Regions from separate parts of the Homo sapiens genome. Here all the other regions are linked to region 1. Evidence: fine-mapped expression QTL. A gene starts in region 1. Each other region holds a variant in brackets. All regions are shown on one strand. Distances are between the middles of the regions.

Region 1 (4,353 bases):
CTCATCATTTCCCACCATCCGTTCATCTCAGTTGAATGCCACCAGTCTTGTGAGGAAGCAGATTAGGAATGCTCATTCCCGCTGGGTGTGGTGGCTCATGCCTGTAATCCCAGCACTTTGGAAGGCTGAGGCTGGTGGATCACAAGGTCAGGAATTCAAGACCAGCCTGGCCAATATGGTGAAACCCCGTCTTTACTGAAAATACAAAAATTAGCCGGGCGTGGTGGCGGGCGCCTGTAGTCCCAGCTACTCAGGAGGCTGAGGCAGGAGAATCATTTGAACCCGGGAGGTGGAGGTTGCAGTGAGCCCAGATCATGCCACTGCACTCCAGCCTAGGCGACAGGGCAAGACTCTGTCTCGACAAAAAAAAAAAAAAAAAAAGGAATGCTCATTCCCCTGCCTGAGATGGCACAGAAAAATTTCTTTCCACATTTAAACAGTGGAAGAAGGGGCACTTCCAAATTTAATCTTTCATAGACAGCATATACAGCATTTAACATCTTCTGGATGTTAAAGAAAAAAATATTCTGAAACTTGTTAAAATGGCAAGGAAGAATTTATTCAGGACCAAAGGGGAGATTATGCTGCACTCTGAATACAATAATGACAAGTGGGATTTATAGCCAACAAGCAGAGTGAGGGGTCACTGCATGGAAAATTACTAAAAGGAGATTCTTGTTAAACCAACTTAACAGGACTCTTGTTGAAGGCAGGCCAGGGTTATTAGATATTAAGGATGGGGGATTTTCTTTAAATTGACTTAGCAGAATTCTTTTCTTACTGAGTTTATTCTTTTTTTTTTTTTTTTTTTTTTTTTTTGAGACAGGGTCTCGCTCTGTCTCCCAGACTGGAGTGCAGTGGTGTGATCATGGCTTATGGCAGCCTCCACCTCCCAGGCTCAAGTGATCCTACCACCTCAGCCTCCTGAGTAGCTGGGACTACAGGGGCCCACCGCCACACCCGGCTAATTTTTTTATTTTTTGTGGAGACAGGGTCTCCCTATCTTGTCCAGGATGATCTGAAATTTCTGGGCTCAAGAGATCTCCCACCTCGGCCACCCAAAATGTTGGGATTACAGGCGTGAGCTACTGTGCCTGGCCATGAGTTTATTCTCTTTTTTCTTTTTGAGACGGAGTTCAAGGCCAGCCTGGCCAACATGGTGAAACCCCGTCTCTACTAAAAATACAAAAAAATGAGCCGGGCATGGTGGCGGGTGCCTGTAATCCCAGCTACTGGGGAGGCTGAGGCACGAGAATAGCTTGAACTCAGGAGGCAGAGGTTGCACTGAGCCGAGATCGCCCCGCTGCACACCAGCCTGGGCAACAGAGTGAGACCTTGTCTCAAAAAAAATAAAGACTCTTCGTGAAGTAGTGTTAAGTGGACCCAGGAGAAAAATGAAGATGACCTCTTAATGGCCCTTCAAATGTATAAAGCTTTCTCATTCAGGGAAGAAAGACATAAAGATGTAGCCCAGGCGCGATGACTCAGGTCTGTAATCCCAACACTTTGGGAGGCCGAGGCAGCTGGACCTCTTGAGCCCAGGAGTTCAAGACCAGCCTAGGCAACATGGCAAAACCCCATCTCTACTAAAAATACAAAAATTAGCCTGGCGTGGTGGCGGGCGCCGTATGGGCACCGTGGTTGTCCCAGCTACTCAGGAGGCTGAAGTGGGAGGATCACCTGAGCCCGGGAGGTCGGGGCTGCAGTAAGCCGTGTTCGCACCATGGCACTCTAGCCTGGACGACAGAAAAAGAAAAAAGAAATAAAGGTATAAAAGAAAAAAAAGAAAAGTAAACAGCTTCTTCCAGGGGATGAAGTAGGTTTATTTCGGTGAGATTGCTGCTCAGGACTTAGGAGAGCCATCAAAGGCAGAAGACCGCTCCTGGGGCCCGGTCACCTGAACACTACAAGTCCCAGCAAGCGCCGCGCGGGGGCGGGGCTTGCTGACCGTTGTGACGTGTGGGCGGGGCAGGCGGGACGGGCTCTCCCTTGGGTGCTTAGCCCCGCCCCCGTCCCACTCTGCCCTGTTGCTGTCGCGCCGCTGCTGGTTGCTGTCCCTGGTGAGTGCCTCAAGTGGAAAGGGGCAGTTAGGCCCTCGGGGTGCCCACATTCAGACTTGCAGTCCTGAGAAGGGGCCACGGGGGTAGAGGTGTGGCAAGTTTCGGTTCTCACCGCAGTTCACCCTCTGGGGTGATAGTGGGAGTGGTGTTCTGAAGGCCCTGGAGCCCCTCCCGCGGCCCGGGAGGGTTGCGGGGCAGTTTTGTCTTGCGGAGGGCAGCGCTGCAGTGCTGTGTGGCAGGGTGGGAGGCTCCTCGGGAAGAAGTGACACCCCTGGCGGCGGCGAGGGTCTTGAGGCGGCGGCTGCCGCCCCACGGGTCGTGGCGTCCCGTCCCCTCCCGCGGGCCCAGGCTGTGGTGGTTCCGTAATCCCTCGCCTGGATGTCATCGCCGTTGGCTTCGAGGCGGAGGTGGAGCCTTGTTGCGTCACCCTGAGCAAGTTACTTTCTTTTTGGGCCTCAGTGTCCCCCTTTACGAGTAGGTTTGATCCCTGAAGCGCCTTGCCTTTTGCATGCTGCAGCTGTCGGAGAAGACGTTCTAGGCAGGAGGAAAGACGGTGTCGTGACCTGCCTCTACAGTTAATCCATTGCCCCTCCACCACTGACCCAGCTTAGTTTGGGAGCTAATGTTCCCACTCGTATATTATTTCAACCCCACTGGACGTGTTAACTCTTTTCTATCACTTGGATTCTTGCTTCACATGCAAGCCAACAAGTGACCATGGTTGGAGCTGAGTAAAATATGGATAATATAACTTATTCTATTATTGGAAACACCATTGCAAGTAAAGGACTTTATGTGGTAGGTCTTTGTAGCTTGTGGAGAATACATGATTAAGGAATATCCAGATGGCTCAGTTTCCCAGGTATTTTCAAGGGACCTGGAAACTCTATCCTTTGGCAGACATGACAGCTGTGGAATGGAAAGGGCCTTGAAAAAGGTAGTCGATAATCCTGAGTTACCTGGCACTAACAGGTCATATTGTCTTTCGAGTCAGATAGTACATCTGTGGCTCTTTAAAAATTTAATTTGGCTGACTAGGCGCGGTGGCTCACGCCTGTAATCTCAGCACTTTGGGAGGCCCAGGCGGGCAGAATCACCTGAGGTCAGGAGTTCAAGACCAGCTTGGCAAACATAGCAAAACGCTGTCTTTACTAAAAATACAAAAATTAGTGGAGCGTGGTGGCGGGCGCCTGTAATCCCAGCTACTTGGGAGGCTGAGGCAGGAGAATCGCTTGGACCCAGACAGCGGAGGGTGCGGTGAGCCGAGATGGCGCCACTGCACTCCAGCCTGGGCAACAGAGTGAGACTCCGTCTCAAAAAACAAACAAACAAAAATTTAATTTGGCAGTATGTATTGATAGAATGTCATGTATCCTTAATTATTTTTAGATGAAAAGAGAGTTAAATGAACTCTTTCACTTCTTTTTTCCTTCACTTAGGATCATCATTATATCAGGCAAGGTCCTTGAAGATTTTCTAGCCTTAGCCATGCATTTTGCTGATGAGGAAACAGGCCAGAAAAGGGTACTGTGACTTGGCCAAGCTCTCAGAGTGGCAGAACTAAGATAGGAACCCAGCTCCCTTGGCTGTTAGCCTAGTCCCCTTTCCACCACACTTCAAACACTGTCACTGCCCATGTCACAGGGACATGGCATGTTAGAATCACCCCTGTCAAGGGAAAAGTGGATGGTCTCAGTAAAATGGAGATTAGTACACAGCTTTGAGCCTTTCAGAGTTTCCAGTTGCCCGCACCTGATGTCCCAGAACTATTTTTTCCATCTTCCCCTAGAACTGGCGCCAGCACTATGGTGGTGTGGATGTGAGATGAGGGCCTGTTTAGAAAAAGCTGGACAGCAAATTCAAACAATTGTTAATGAGTAGTAATAAAGGCCTCCTGGGGTGTAAAATTTTTGTAAGACACTCTGAAACATTTTCATATTTTAGGTAAGGGTCTAGAATTAACTTGGAAATTTTGGGCTAGAGCAAATGGCTCGATAATTTGAAGACCAGTGATTGTGTCTTTGCTTTTGCTACCTGTTTCAGGGCCATCTACACACACCCATAGTATCCACTGCTGGTATTCTTTAAGGCTGGTTATGTGTAAGCATTTCTGCCATAGCCAGGGAGAAACGGGATTCAAATCAATTCATCCATTTTTGCTAATTGCTAATCGTTTAGAAAGAAAAGTAAGCAGAAGGCCGGGCACAGTGGCTCACGCCTGTAATCCCAGCACTTTGGGAGGCCAAGGTGGGTGGATCACGAGGTCAGGAGTTAGAGACCAACTTGGCCAACA
Region 2 (4,000 bases), 100 kb after region 1:
TCATACTCACAGCTAACTCTGTCATAACCTAGAGCCTCTACAGAGGAAGCCAGAAGAGACTGAAAGTGAATATTATTTACTGGTCCATTAGGACCAGCTAGTTTGAGATAAGGAACATTTTATTTAAAAGGTTTGAATTAGCATAGGCTGTAATCTATGTCTCACAGCTACAAAGACTAGACAGGCCAGGAAACAACCCACATTCTAGGCCCAGCTCTTCCATGAACTTGCAGATGACCTACAAAAATCATTTTATATGTGCTTGCCGTTCTCTGTGTTAATCAGATTATGCTTACTGAACGAGCGAGGTTTTCCTCCAATAAAAATGCAACGTGAAGGCACTTTTCAAAAATAAAAGAATGAGGGAAGAAAGAAAAACTTGGAACTTTTTTTCTATTTTTTGTATAAACAAAATTGCCCAGGTTTATTTGCCACCTCCGCCTCCTCCCTGCCTGCTGCTGTGTGCCCTTCCACATGCAGTCAGGGGAGGGCTTCTCTGGCCTCCTCAGCTGTAATCTCCTGGGAGTAGAGGTCAGTGAAGAGAGCTGGCAGCCAGTAGTGGGCCTCCCCTGGGGCCTGTAAGTCCAGCCACGCCAACCCTTCCTTCAGCAGGTGTTCCTGGAGGGAAAAGGGAAGAAGAGCAGTTTGAGAACAGGGAGGTTCCATAGACAAAGGGTAGGTAAGCAACCCCCACACCTATTTTGGCTTCAGTGAGGTTTTCAAACTAAATCTACTAAGTGCCTTCAAACCTTTACACAACCAACTAAACGAGCTGTTTGGCCTTGGCCTTTGCCTGAATTTGAAAAATGCTACGAAGTCATTTAACTTGTGCTGCTGGGGAAGAGGGGTAAAGCCTAGCATAGTGGAATATAGTGGAAAGAACATAGCTACAGAAATATTTGCTGTGTGGCCTTCAGCAAATCACTGCCTCCATTTTCCCAGAAACTGTTAAACAGAGATCACTGTTTAGCTACCTTTGAATTAAGTTATTCCGGGTAGCAAACATGATTGACCATACTTATGCAAGAATAGACTCAGTTCCTAGAGCTGGAAATAATATGCTCAAAATGGGTGGTTTCTGTCCAATATCATTAGGTAAATAATTATGTTATCCCCATTTTACAGATGAAAGGTTTAGACAGTTGAATTGTTTGGATAAGGAAAAAAGGTACTGAAGCCGGAGTTCTTACATTGCTCCCTCTTCACATCATTCATTCTTCAGTACGATGAAATTTGTATATATAAAGCTAGAGTATATACTATGCAATATAATGCTTAGTGGATAATTAGATATGTAATTAACGTAGTTAATAATTCACTGTACTAACAGTGTTACTTCCAGTACAAACTACATTAATCTCCTGACCAGCAACTCCAGGCTCAGCATGTTCAGGAGAGAGAGTGTCAGTTCCCCAAGTAGCAGGGGCAGCCTGGTATTGTGTGCATGCCAGAGTTAGGAACCTGCCTTCCTAGTTCTACCTTTTTGGTGCCATCTTCAGAGAAGTGCTGGGCTTCCTTCTAGCATGGCAGCAGTAGCCTTCAAGGCAGAAGGCCAGCAAAGCAATGCTGAAGTTCCTGCATTTGTGGAACCCACATCCTCCCAACTGGGGCCTGCCTGTCTTTTCTGGACTGTTCCAAAGTTGCATACCAGCACTTGCCGCGCTCGCTCGGTCTCCCATTTAAGACTGGCTTTGATCTCACTGACAGTCACGTAGCCATTCTTCTGAAGGAAGGAGGAATGGGGATTGAATCAGTTAAGAGTGCACCTTCCCTTAGAACCCAGGATCTGCCCAGGAACAAGAGACTTACCCAGACAGGAGGAAAAGCTGTCAAGCATGAGAGAACACAGAAAATGTTTAAAGGTTCCAGCGGGGAGAGAGAGAAGTGACTTTCAGCATGACAGAGGTAGGTTGGTGGGTTCAATCCTAAAACTGGGGTACCGGCCAGGCACGGCAGCTCATGCCTGTAATCCTAGCACTTTTTGGGAGGCCGAGGTGGGTGGATCACCTGACGTCAGGAGTTCGAGACCAGCCTGGCCAACATGGTGAAACCCCATCTCTACTAAAAATACAAAAATTAGCCAGGCATGGTGGCACACGCCTGTAATCCCAGCTACTCGGGAGGCTGAGGCAGAAGAATCACTGGAACCTGGGAGATGGAGGCTGCAGTGAGCCGGAGATTGCACCACTGCACACCAGCCTGGGTGACAGAGCGAGACTCCATCTCAAAAAACAAAAAAGTGGGGTCCCTTGTACTAACATACTGAGTTAGACTTCTGCAAAGCACTCTAGAGCATGACAAGGGAAGATTCTGGACAATTAATTGATGGGAAGAAATGATGATAATCATAAACTGCTAATAACCTCCATTATTTAAATATTCAGCCCTTGCCCTGCCTCATTCTACTCATCCTCCAATACAGAAAAGCCCCTCCCTTATTTAGTTCTGTTTTACGT[C/T]ATAAAGGAAACTGGGCCGGGTGCGGTGGCTCACCCCTGTAATCCCAGCACTTAGAGAGGCTAAGGTGGGTGGATCACCTGAGGTCGGGAGTTCGAGACCAAACTCAGGCCTGGCCAACATGGAGAAACCCCATCTCTACTAAAAATACAAAATTAGCTGGGCGTGGTGGCACACACCTGTAATCCCAGCTACTCGGGAGGCTGAGGCAGGAGAATCACTTGAACCCGGGAGGCTGACATTGTAGTGAGCTGAGATCACGCCATTGCACTCTGGCCTAGGCAACGAGTGAAACTCCATCTCAAAAATAATAAAACTGAACACATCTAAATACCTGATGGGGATTTGGGGGAAGATGGCATATGCTTAAGGCATGATGAGGGATGGGGGCATGGCAAACAAGATTTTTTAAAATCTGTTTTTGAAGAATCCATAAAGTAGTTTCAAAAGACATCAAAGAGTCTGGCTACCCAAAGAAATCTAGTTAGTTGTCTGCATGTCTGTCTACCTGACTAGACTGTAAGCTCCTTGAGAGCAGGAATTTTATCATCTTTATATGCCCCACAGCCTGGCCCAGTGCTTTGCACTGTAGCTGCTCAATAAATGTCTGCTGAACAAGCACAGGCCTGAGTAGTTCATCCACTGGATAGTCTCAGCAAAAGACCTGCATAATGGGGAGCACGAGCTGAGAACTGCTCCAGACTTGCCTCACAGACTGTCCCTTGCACACACACACACTCGAAGGTGCACCAGTACCTCTGCCAGCTGCAGCACCACGGTGTGATCCATATTGAGCTCAGCTGGAACAGACTGAATGAGGTAAGTGCCGCCCACAGGGATGATGCCGAAGCCAGTGCCAAGTGCCTTTAGTTTCTTGATGGCTCTGATCAGGTCATCTCTGAGGTAAGGAAGAGTTGCTTAACGACCCTTGGCAGAATCAGACCTAACAACACAGTTTCAGCTCTGCCCTGGGCAGGATACTGACAGAAAATTTAGAAGACTGCACAACTGCCAGGCGCAATGGCTCATACCCATAATCGCAACACTTTTGGGATGCCCACATTGAGAAGACTGCTTGAGCCCAGGGGTTAGAGACCAGCCTGGGCAACACAGCAAGACCTTATCTTTACTAAAAATAAAAAATTAGCAGGGCATGGTGGCAATCGCCTATAATCCTTGGGAGGCTGAGGCAGGAGGATCACTTGAGCCCAGGAGTTCAAGGCTGCAGTGAGCTGTGATTGTGCACCACTGTACTCCAGCCTGGGTGACAGAGCGAGACCCTGCCTCTAAAATAAAAGGCTGCACAACACTCAACTACGTCAGTAAAAAGACAGGGTCAAGGAGCAATAAGTGATGCTTGGACAATCATGGGAGATACACAGGAGTCAGGCTGTCTGCTCAGCGAACCACTCATTCCAACATCCAGACAGCGGTCAAAGATACACCTGCAGATGCCCATCAGGAAATGTGAATGAGTGAGCTGAAGAGGCAATGGGGGTAGTGTCACCTGTGGCAAACTAGAGAATGCTTATCTATTTTAAAGGGG
Region 3 (4,000 bases), 27 kb after region 1:
CCAAAAAAAAAAAAAAAAAAATTGGCATCTTGATGCCAGCTCAGGCCTTCAGGTGTCTTTTTAAGTCACTTTAATTTAGCACCCTGCCCATAGTACCATTTCTTCCTCCCAGTTGCGTTCTCCTCCATCTCAGTCTCCCCGCTTTGCAATGCCAGATTCTCTACAATTTCTCACCTTGTACCCAGACTGCAATATGTGATCCTAATCCTAATTTTTTTTATTGTTGACAGGATGAAAACTTTGACCTGTCAAAAAGACTGAGTGAGAACGAAATTATATGTAATGCTCTGCAGAGACAGAAAGAGAGATTGGAAGGAGAAAATGATGTAAGTGTGTGAAAGAGGGTATAAAACCCCAAGGTTTTAAGGGGAAGGATCAGGGTGGCCCAGAGATGTAGTGAAAAAAATAAAAAGTTAAGGGCCCTTTCTGGGACAGTGGGTGAAACAGTTGTTCCTAAACGAAGAGTAAATTTAATCTAATTTCCTAATCTACCACAAAACCCTGTCTTTATTCTACAACTGAAATTTGTTTGGCATGGCAATAGTCACCTTGAAAGAAGCCACACTGATGAAGACCTAACTTATTTTTGCTTTTAACTTCACAGCTAATATATGTTGCCTTGGGGGATAGGGGAATAACGTCCTACATAACTTTATGCTAGTGGGGAACTCCTTTTCTTCAGCACAACTTTTTCCTTTTTCTCTGCTGCCAAACCAGGAGCAGAAGTGGTGGTCTGTACCAGTGCTGGACCCATGGTAGGCCCCTAATAAATGCTGTGCATTCATTCATTCATTCATTCATTCATTCATTGGTTCATTCATTCATCCAACCAACATTTATTATTGATTGAAGATGATATGGCAAAAAATAAAGTGGTTGTACTTGAAGTCAAGGTCATTCTCATGTTCTTTCTTTTCTTTTTTTTTTTTTTCTTTTTTTGTTGTTGTTGTTTTTGAGACAAGGTCTCACTCTGTCACCCAGGCTTGGAGTGCAGTGGCACAAGCTTGGCTCACTGCAGCCTTGATCTCCTGGGCTCAAGTGATCGTCCTGCCACAGCCTCCCAAGTAGCTGGGACTATAGGCATATGCCACCATGCCCGGCTAATTTTTTTTTTATTTTTAGTAGAGACAAGGTCTTGCTGTGTTGCCCAAGCTGCTCTCAAACTCCTGGGCTCAAGCAATCCTCCTGCCTCGGCCTCCCAAAGTGCTGGGATTACAGACATGACCCACCACGCCCGGCCCATTCTCATGTTCTTGCTCAGCATCAAATAATAGGTGTCCATGCATTCTGGCTGCTACTCCTGTATCTATACTTCCATCAATTCTTCATCTTTACCCTTTTTTTTTTTTTTTTGAGACGGAGTTTCACTCTTCTTGCCTAGGCTGGAGTGCGATGGCACGATCTCAGCTCACCGCAACCTCCACCTTCCGGGTTCAAGCGATTCCCCTGCCTCAGCCTCCTGAGTAGCTGGGATTACAGGCAATTGCCACCACGCCTGGCTAGTTTTGTATTTTTAGTAGAGACGGGGTTTCTCCATGTTGGTCAGGCTGGTCTCGAACTCCTGACCTGAGGTGATCCACCCGCCTTGGCCTCCCAAAGTGCTGGGATTACAGGCGTGAGCCACTGCACCCGGCCCTTTTTTTTTTTTTTTTTTTTTTTGAGACGGAGTCTCACTCTGTTGCCCAGCCTGGAGTGCAGTGGCATGATCGTGACTCACTACAACCTCCACCTCCTGATCTTTACCCTCTATAATCCTTCTGGCCTATGCCTCCTAGTGATCATTTTTACTATTTTTTTCTTTTTAAAATTGCGGTTAAAACACATAAAATTTGGCTGGGCGCGGTGGCTCACGCCTGTAATCCTAGCACTTTGGGAGGCCAAGGCAGGTGGATCACAAGGTCAGGAGATCGAGACCATCCTGGCTAACACAGTGAAACCCCGTCTCTACTAAAAATA[C/CA]AAAAAAAAAATTAGCGAGCTTGGTGGCAGGCGCCTATAGTCCCAGCTACTCAGGAGGCTGAGGCAGGAAAATGGCGTGAACCCAGGAGGTGGAGCTTGCAGTGAGCCAAGATCGTGCCACTGCACTCCAGCCTGGCTGACAGAGCAAGACTACATCAATAGAATAGAATAGAATAGAATAGAATAGAATAGAATAGAATAGAATAGAATAGAATAGAATAGAATAGAAAATAGAATAGAATAGAATAGAATAGAATTTTACCATCTTAATAATGTAAAAGTGTACAGTTCAGTAGAGTTAAGTGCATCACAGTGCTATGCAACAGATCTCCAGAACTTTTCCATCTTGCAACATTAAAACTTCATACCTACTAAAACATTAATTCTCCCTCACTTTCTACTTTTGATTATATCATTTATGCCAATGTGTTTCATAATTGCAGAAGGCTTTTTGGGTTCTCTTTCTAGTCTTGTTATTCCCATTCTCTCTTTTTTGTTTTGTTTTGCTTTTGTTTTGTTTGTTTGTTTGTTTTTTAGAGTCTTGCTCTGTTATCCAGGCTGGAGTGCAGTGGCACCATCTTGGCTCACTGCAACCTCCACCTCCCAGATTCAAGTGATTCTTGTGCTTCAGCCTCCTGAGTAGCTAGGATTGCAGGTGCGCACCACCACACCCAGCTAATTTTTGTGTTTTTAGTAGAGAGGGGGTTTCACCATGTTGCCCAAGCTGGTGTTGAACTCCTGGGCTCAAGCAATCCGCCCACCTCAGCCTCCCAAAGTGATGGGATTACAGGCATAAGCCACTGTGTCCGGCCTATTCCCATTCTCTTAATTTATACCTTGAGTTTGAAATCCCTGTTTTCCTGAGTTAGTTTGATTGTGGGGGGGGGCAGGTGCACACACAGTTTGCAAAACAAAGGGAAAGATTTGGTATTTGGAAGCTTTGTTAAGAACTGTAGGCCGGGTGCTGTGGCTCACGCCTGTAATCCCAGCACTTTGGGAGGCCGAGGCGGGTGGATCACGAGGTCAGGAGTTCAAGACCAGCCTGGTGAAACCTCATCTCTACTAAAAATACAAAAAAGTAGCCAGGTGTGGTGGTGCATGCCTGTAATCCCAGCTACTCAGGAGGCTGAGGCAGGAGAATCGCTTGAACCCGGGAAGTGGAAGGTTGCAGTGAGCTGAGATCGCACCACTACACTCCAGCCTGGGCGACAGAGCAAGACTCTGTCTCAAAAAAAAAAAAAAAAAAAAAAAAAAAAGAACTGTAGTAAAGCCCTCTTAAGATGATAAGGGAATTTTGCTTATTTTCTTTTTCCTAAGAACTTGAAATGCTGTCTGTGCCACTTTTAGTAATTTTTTTCTCTTTTTCATTACCTCCCTCCCACCCTGTCTTCTTACTCATTCTCTGTGTTGATATATCCATTTGAATGGGATAAGACCTGAAGAAGGAAAAATTATTTTAGGTGAATATTTGCATTGTGTAAGAAATTATTCTAGGAAAGAAACTGAAAAAATATTCTGCTCTCAATAATATACAACACTGGGAGGCCAAGGCAGGAAGGTCACTTGAAGCCAGGAGTTTGAAACCAGCCTGGGCAACAAAGCAAGAGCCTTTCATCTCTACAAAAAATTTAAAAATCAGCCAGGCACGGTGTCGTGTGCCTGTAGTCCCAGCTACTAAGGAGGCTGAGGTGGGAGGGTTGCTTGAGCCCATGAGTTCAAGGCTGCAGTAAGCTATGATCTCACCCCGCACTCCAGCCTGGGTGACCAAGCAAGACCCTGTCTCTAAAAAAAACAAATTTAACAACAACAATAATAATATACAATAGTTTCAACGTTAATATACCTATCAGAATAGTTGCAGTGTTAATATAGCTCCTGCCACTTTCATATATCTACATATTTGTTCCTCCCTGTAGTTGGCATGTATTTAGAGATTTAAAACTTTTTTGTATTAATATAAACAAAATGTAGTAAATATATTTAAATTCAGGTATAGGCTGGGCACAGTGGCTCACACCTGTAATCTCGACACTTTGGGAGGCCA
Region 4 (4,000 bases), 110 kb after region 1:
GTAGCAGTAAGCTGTGATCATGCCACTGTACTCCAGCCCGGGCAAAAGTGAGACCCTATCTCTTATTTTTTGTTTGTTTTTTGTTTTTTTTTTTCCTGTATGATATGGAGATCATACAGATTTCTAAGCTAGCCTAGACATGAGGAATAGGGAGAAAAGAGTTCCATCTGAATTTTAAAGACCTCTTTCTGTACTCCAAGGGATTGGAAGACAAGACCTACTGACTGACATCCTGGGCGAACTTGCCCCTTCCCTTCAACACCTGTTGATGTAGTTCCTCCAAAGTTATCAGACCTGTTTGGAGACAGGGAACAGAAATCAGAAAAAGAGATTACCCACTTTAAATAAGTTGACAGTCATTACAATTCCAGTGGCCTACAAGTAGCAAATAACATTCTAGTTCCTAATTTTTTTTTAACACTCTCCTTATGAAATAACTGACCATAATATGAGAAATGGATTCTGAGACCTTGCTAGGCCTGTCAACAGAGAGCTACGAAAATCTAAAAACAAAAGCAGTATCATCTTTGAAAAACTATAAATGTCCTCTTGACATCAAGGCCGTGTCTATTTATAGTTGATGATGATTTGTAAATGGTTTTAAGTTTTCTTTCTGTAACTTCAATCCACACCATTTAACGTGCTTACTAAGAAAGATGGCATCACCAGATGACAAATTTTAAGGTCACATTTTAGGGAACACAGACTCAGTTGGCATTCCCATACGTCGGAGAGACAGTGCAGGACTATAGTTACTAATGAGAAAATCACTCCAGACACATCAGACATCAGGGGAAAAGGCCTACTTCCTACCTCTCTACTATTTTCTGTACTGACTAGGGACTAGACCTTCCTGGCCAAAGATCTTTGGAGAACAGAGACAATCGTTCAGGTAATTCTATTTACCCTTGGCCATGGAGACTTGCCATGGATTCAACTGCATGAAACAGCTAAGATGTCTCTCAAGTCCTTAGAGGCCTGTAGACTGCAGGATGGAAACGATAATCTTTTACGGTTTTCTCCCTCTCAGAGAAGTCCAGAGTCCAGTTCACAGGACCTAGCCACCCTCACCTCCATTCCGATGCTTCAGCGCCAGGCACACTTCGATAATTTGGACACCTAGTTCGTAATAGAAGTCCCCCACGCCCAGCATCTCAGACCAAAATCCTTTTCCAGCTACAAGACAGAAAAACAAAATCTCGGTTATTGATTAATTTACATCCCTTCTTTTCTTTCAAACCTGCATTAAAACATCTATCATATGGGAAGTCTTCCCTGCATGGCATGAAGTTCTTCTGCTCCATCTGCTACTCAGGAAACAATCGGACTCACGGTAACTCCTGCTGAAGAACAGGGTCAGACGGCTCCAGAGGGCAGGCAATCTAAAAGTCATTTCTGGCCGGGCGCAGTGGCTCACGCCTGTAATTCCAACACTTTGGGACATCGAGCTAGGTGGATCGCTCGAGACCAAGAGTTCAAGACCAGCCTGGCCAACATGGCAAAACCCCATCTCTAATAATAATAATAATAAATTAGCCAGGAGTGGTGGCGTGC[G/A]CCTGTAATCCCAGCTACTTGGGAGGCTGAGGCAGGAGAATTGCTGGAACCCAGGAGGCAGAAGTTGCAGTGAGCCAAGATCGCGCCACCATACTCCAGCCTGGGCAATAAGAGCACAACTCTCTCTCAAAAAAAAAAAATACAGCCGGGGACAGTGGGTCACGCCTGTAATTCCAGCACTTTGGGAAGCCAAAGCTGGTGGATCACAAGGTCAAGAGATAGAGACCATCCTGGCCAATACAGTGAAACCCTGTCTCTACTAAAAATACAAAAATTAGCCGGGCGTGGTGGCGCGTGCCTGTAATCTCAGCTACTCAGGAGACTGAGGCAAGAGAATCGCTTGAACCCGGGAGGCAGAGGTTGCAGTGAGCCGGGATTACGCCACTGCACTCCAGCCTGGCAACAGAGTGAGACTCCGTTTCAAAAAAAATAAATAAATAAAAATAAATAAATAAAAATTTAAAAAATAAAACAAAAGTCATTTCTATTTGGCTAATTCTGGCTCAGGATACTGAAAAAACGAGTTTCCATTCACAAAGCATGCAGTGAAATATAATGGGAAATATGGTCTAGACAAGACTAAGAGAAAGAATATGCAGACTCAGCATTCAAAAATCCACTGAATGTTCTGTGAGTTACCAGGAGTGTAGAAATAAAAAATAAATAAATAAACAATCCACTGACGACAATATTCTATTCAGTGAAAAATGCAGGTTGGGCGCAGTGGCTCACGCCTGTAATCCCAGCACTTTGGGAGGCAGAGGCAGGCGGATCACCTGAGGTCAGGAGTTCGAGAACAGCCTGACCAACATGGAGACACCCCGTCTCTACTAAAAATACAAAATTGGCCAGGCATGGTGGTGGGCACCTGTAATCCCAACTACTTGGGAGGCTGAGGCAGGAGAATCGCTTGAACCTGGGTGGCGAAGGTTGCAGTGACCCAAGATCACGCCATTGCACTCCAGCCTGGGAATCAAGAGCAAAACTCCATCTCAAAAAAAAAAAAAAAAAGAAAACAAAAATGTAGGTTATAGAGCAGTAGTAATTATATTATAATCCCATATATGTTTACAAAGTTGGGGCCACGCCAGGAGCAGTGGCTCACGCCTGTAATCCCAGCACTTTGGGAGGTTGAGAGGGGCAGATCACGAGGTCAGGAGATCAAGACCATCCTGGCTAACATGCTGAAACCCTGTCTCTACTAATCATACAAAAAATTAGCCGGGCATGGTGGCACATGCCTATAGTCCCAGCTAGCTACTCAGGAGGCTGAGGCAGGAGAATCACTTGAACCCAGGAGGCGGAGGTTGCAGTTAACCAGGATCGCGCCATTGCACTCCAGCATGGGCAACAAGAGCGAGACTCCGTCTCAAAAAAAAAAAAAAGCAGTAAATTATATAGTGCAATGCCTGGCACACAAATAAATATCGTTTATGATTGTTATTCATTGTTTGAGATAAAATCAGTCATCTGTAGCCGGGCGCGGTAGCTCACACCTGTAATCCCAGTACTTTGGGAGGCCGAGGCGGGTGGATCACGAGGTCAGGAGTTCAAGACCAACCCGGCCAAGATGGTGAAACTCCGTCTCTACTAAAAATACAAAAAATTAGCCGGGCATGGTGGCACATGCCTATAGTCCCAGCTAGCTACTCAGGAGGCTGAGGCAGGAGAATCACTTGAACCCAGGAGAAGGAGGTTGCAGTGAGCCAAGAGTGTCACACCACAGTACTCCAGCATGGGCAACAGAGTGAGACTCTGTCTCAAGAAAAAAAAAAAAAAAAACACTGGGGCCAGGCACGGTGACTCATGCCTCTAGTCCCAGCTCCACTTGGGAGGTTGAGGCAGGAAAGTAACTTGAGCCCTGGAGTTGAAGGCTGCAGTGGGCTGATTGCACCAATGCACTCCAGCCTAGGTGACAGAAACCTCAATGCTAAAAAATAATAAATTAGTAATTTCTTTTTTTTTTTTTTTTGGGGGGATGGAGTCTCGCTCTGTTGCCTGGGCTGTTGTGCAGGGGCGCGACCTTGGCTCACTGCAACCTTCACCTCCCGGGTTCAAGTGATTTTCCTGCTTCAGCCTCCCGAGTAGCTGGGATTACAGGCATGTGCCACCATACCTGGCTAATTTTTTGTATTTTTAGTAGAGACAGGGTTTCACCGTGTTAGCCAGGATGGCCTCATCTCCTGACCTTATGATCTGCCCGCCTCAGCCTCACAAAGTGCTGGGATTACAGGCGTGAGCCACCGCGCCCGGTGAATAATTTTTTTTAAAGTTTATAAGTATGAGGAAGGGCTCAGTGCAGTGGCTCACATCTATAATCCCAGCACTCTGGAAGGCCAAGAAAGGCCGATCACTTGATCCCAAGAGTTGAAGACCAAACTGGGCAACATGGTGAAACCTCCTCTCTACAAAAAATACAAAAATTAGCCAGATTTGGTGGTGCAGG

Which allele goes with the higher level. Alleles are on the strand shown, and positions count from the first base shown. SD is a standard deviation of normalised expression in the study named. Not every link is listed here.
For the expression in cerebral cortex of the gene that starts at base 2,017 in region 1, T is the low allele of the variant in region 2 and C is the other (large effect, 0.76 SD a copy in GTEx).

The links.
Region 2: its variant is fine-mapped to the expression of CALCOCO2 in cerebral cortex (GTEx, PIP above 0.99). The same link has a PIP of 0.9 or more in subcutaneous fat.
Region 3: its variant is fine-mapped to the expression of CALCOCO2 in whole blood (INTERVAL, PIP 0.92).
Region 4: its variant is fine-mapped to the expression of CALCOCO2 in whole blood (INTERVAL, PIP 0.96).

Annotation. Positions count from the first base shown.
Region 1 is chr17:48,829,019-48,833,371 of GRCh38, forward strand. It overlaps CALCOCO2 (calcium binding and coiled-coil domain 2), which reads left to right and starts at 2,017. Exons shown (of 13, transcript NM_005831.5): 1 at 2,017-2,060. RefSeq lists an enhancer at 2,021-2,902 and a silencer at 2,273-2,432.
Region 2 is chr17:48,929,995-48,933,994 of GRCh38, forward strand. SNF8 (SNF8 subunit of ESCRT-II) reads right to left here. Exons shown (of 8, transcript NM_007241.4): 6 at 3,211-3,352; 7 at 1,649-1,723; 8 at 1-618. The coding sequence ends at 481. Among named protein-coding and RNA genes, the nearest start is that of SNF8, 13 kb to the right of the region's middle. The variant C/T (reference allele first, on the strand shown) is at 2,457.
Region 3 is chr17:48,855,862-48,859,861 of GRCh38, forward strand. It overlaps CALCOCO2 (calcium binding and coiled-coil domain 2), which reads left to right. Exons shown (of 13, transcript NM_005831.5): 10 at 231-326. Among named protein-coding and RNA genes, the nearest start is that of CALCOCO2, 27 kb to the left of the region's middle. The variant C/CA (reference allele first, on the strand shown) is at 1,957.
Region 4 is chr17:48,935,949-48,939,948 of GRCh38, forward strand. SNF8 (SNF8 subunit of ESCRT-II) reads right to left here. Exons shown (of 8, transcript NM_007241.4): 4 at 1,072-1,176; 5 at 222-294. Among named protein-coding and RNA genes, the nearest start is that of SNF8, 6.9 kb to the right of the region's middle. The variant G/A (reference allele first, on the strand shown) is at 1,555.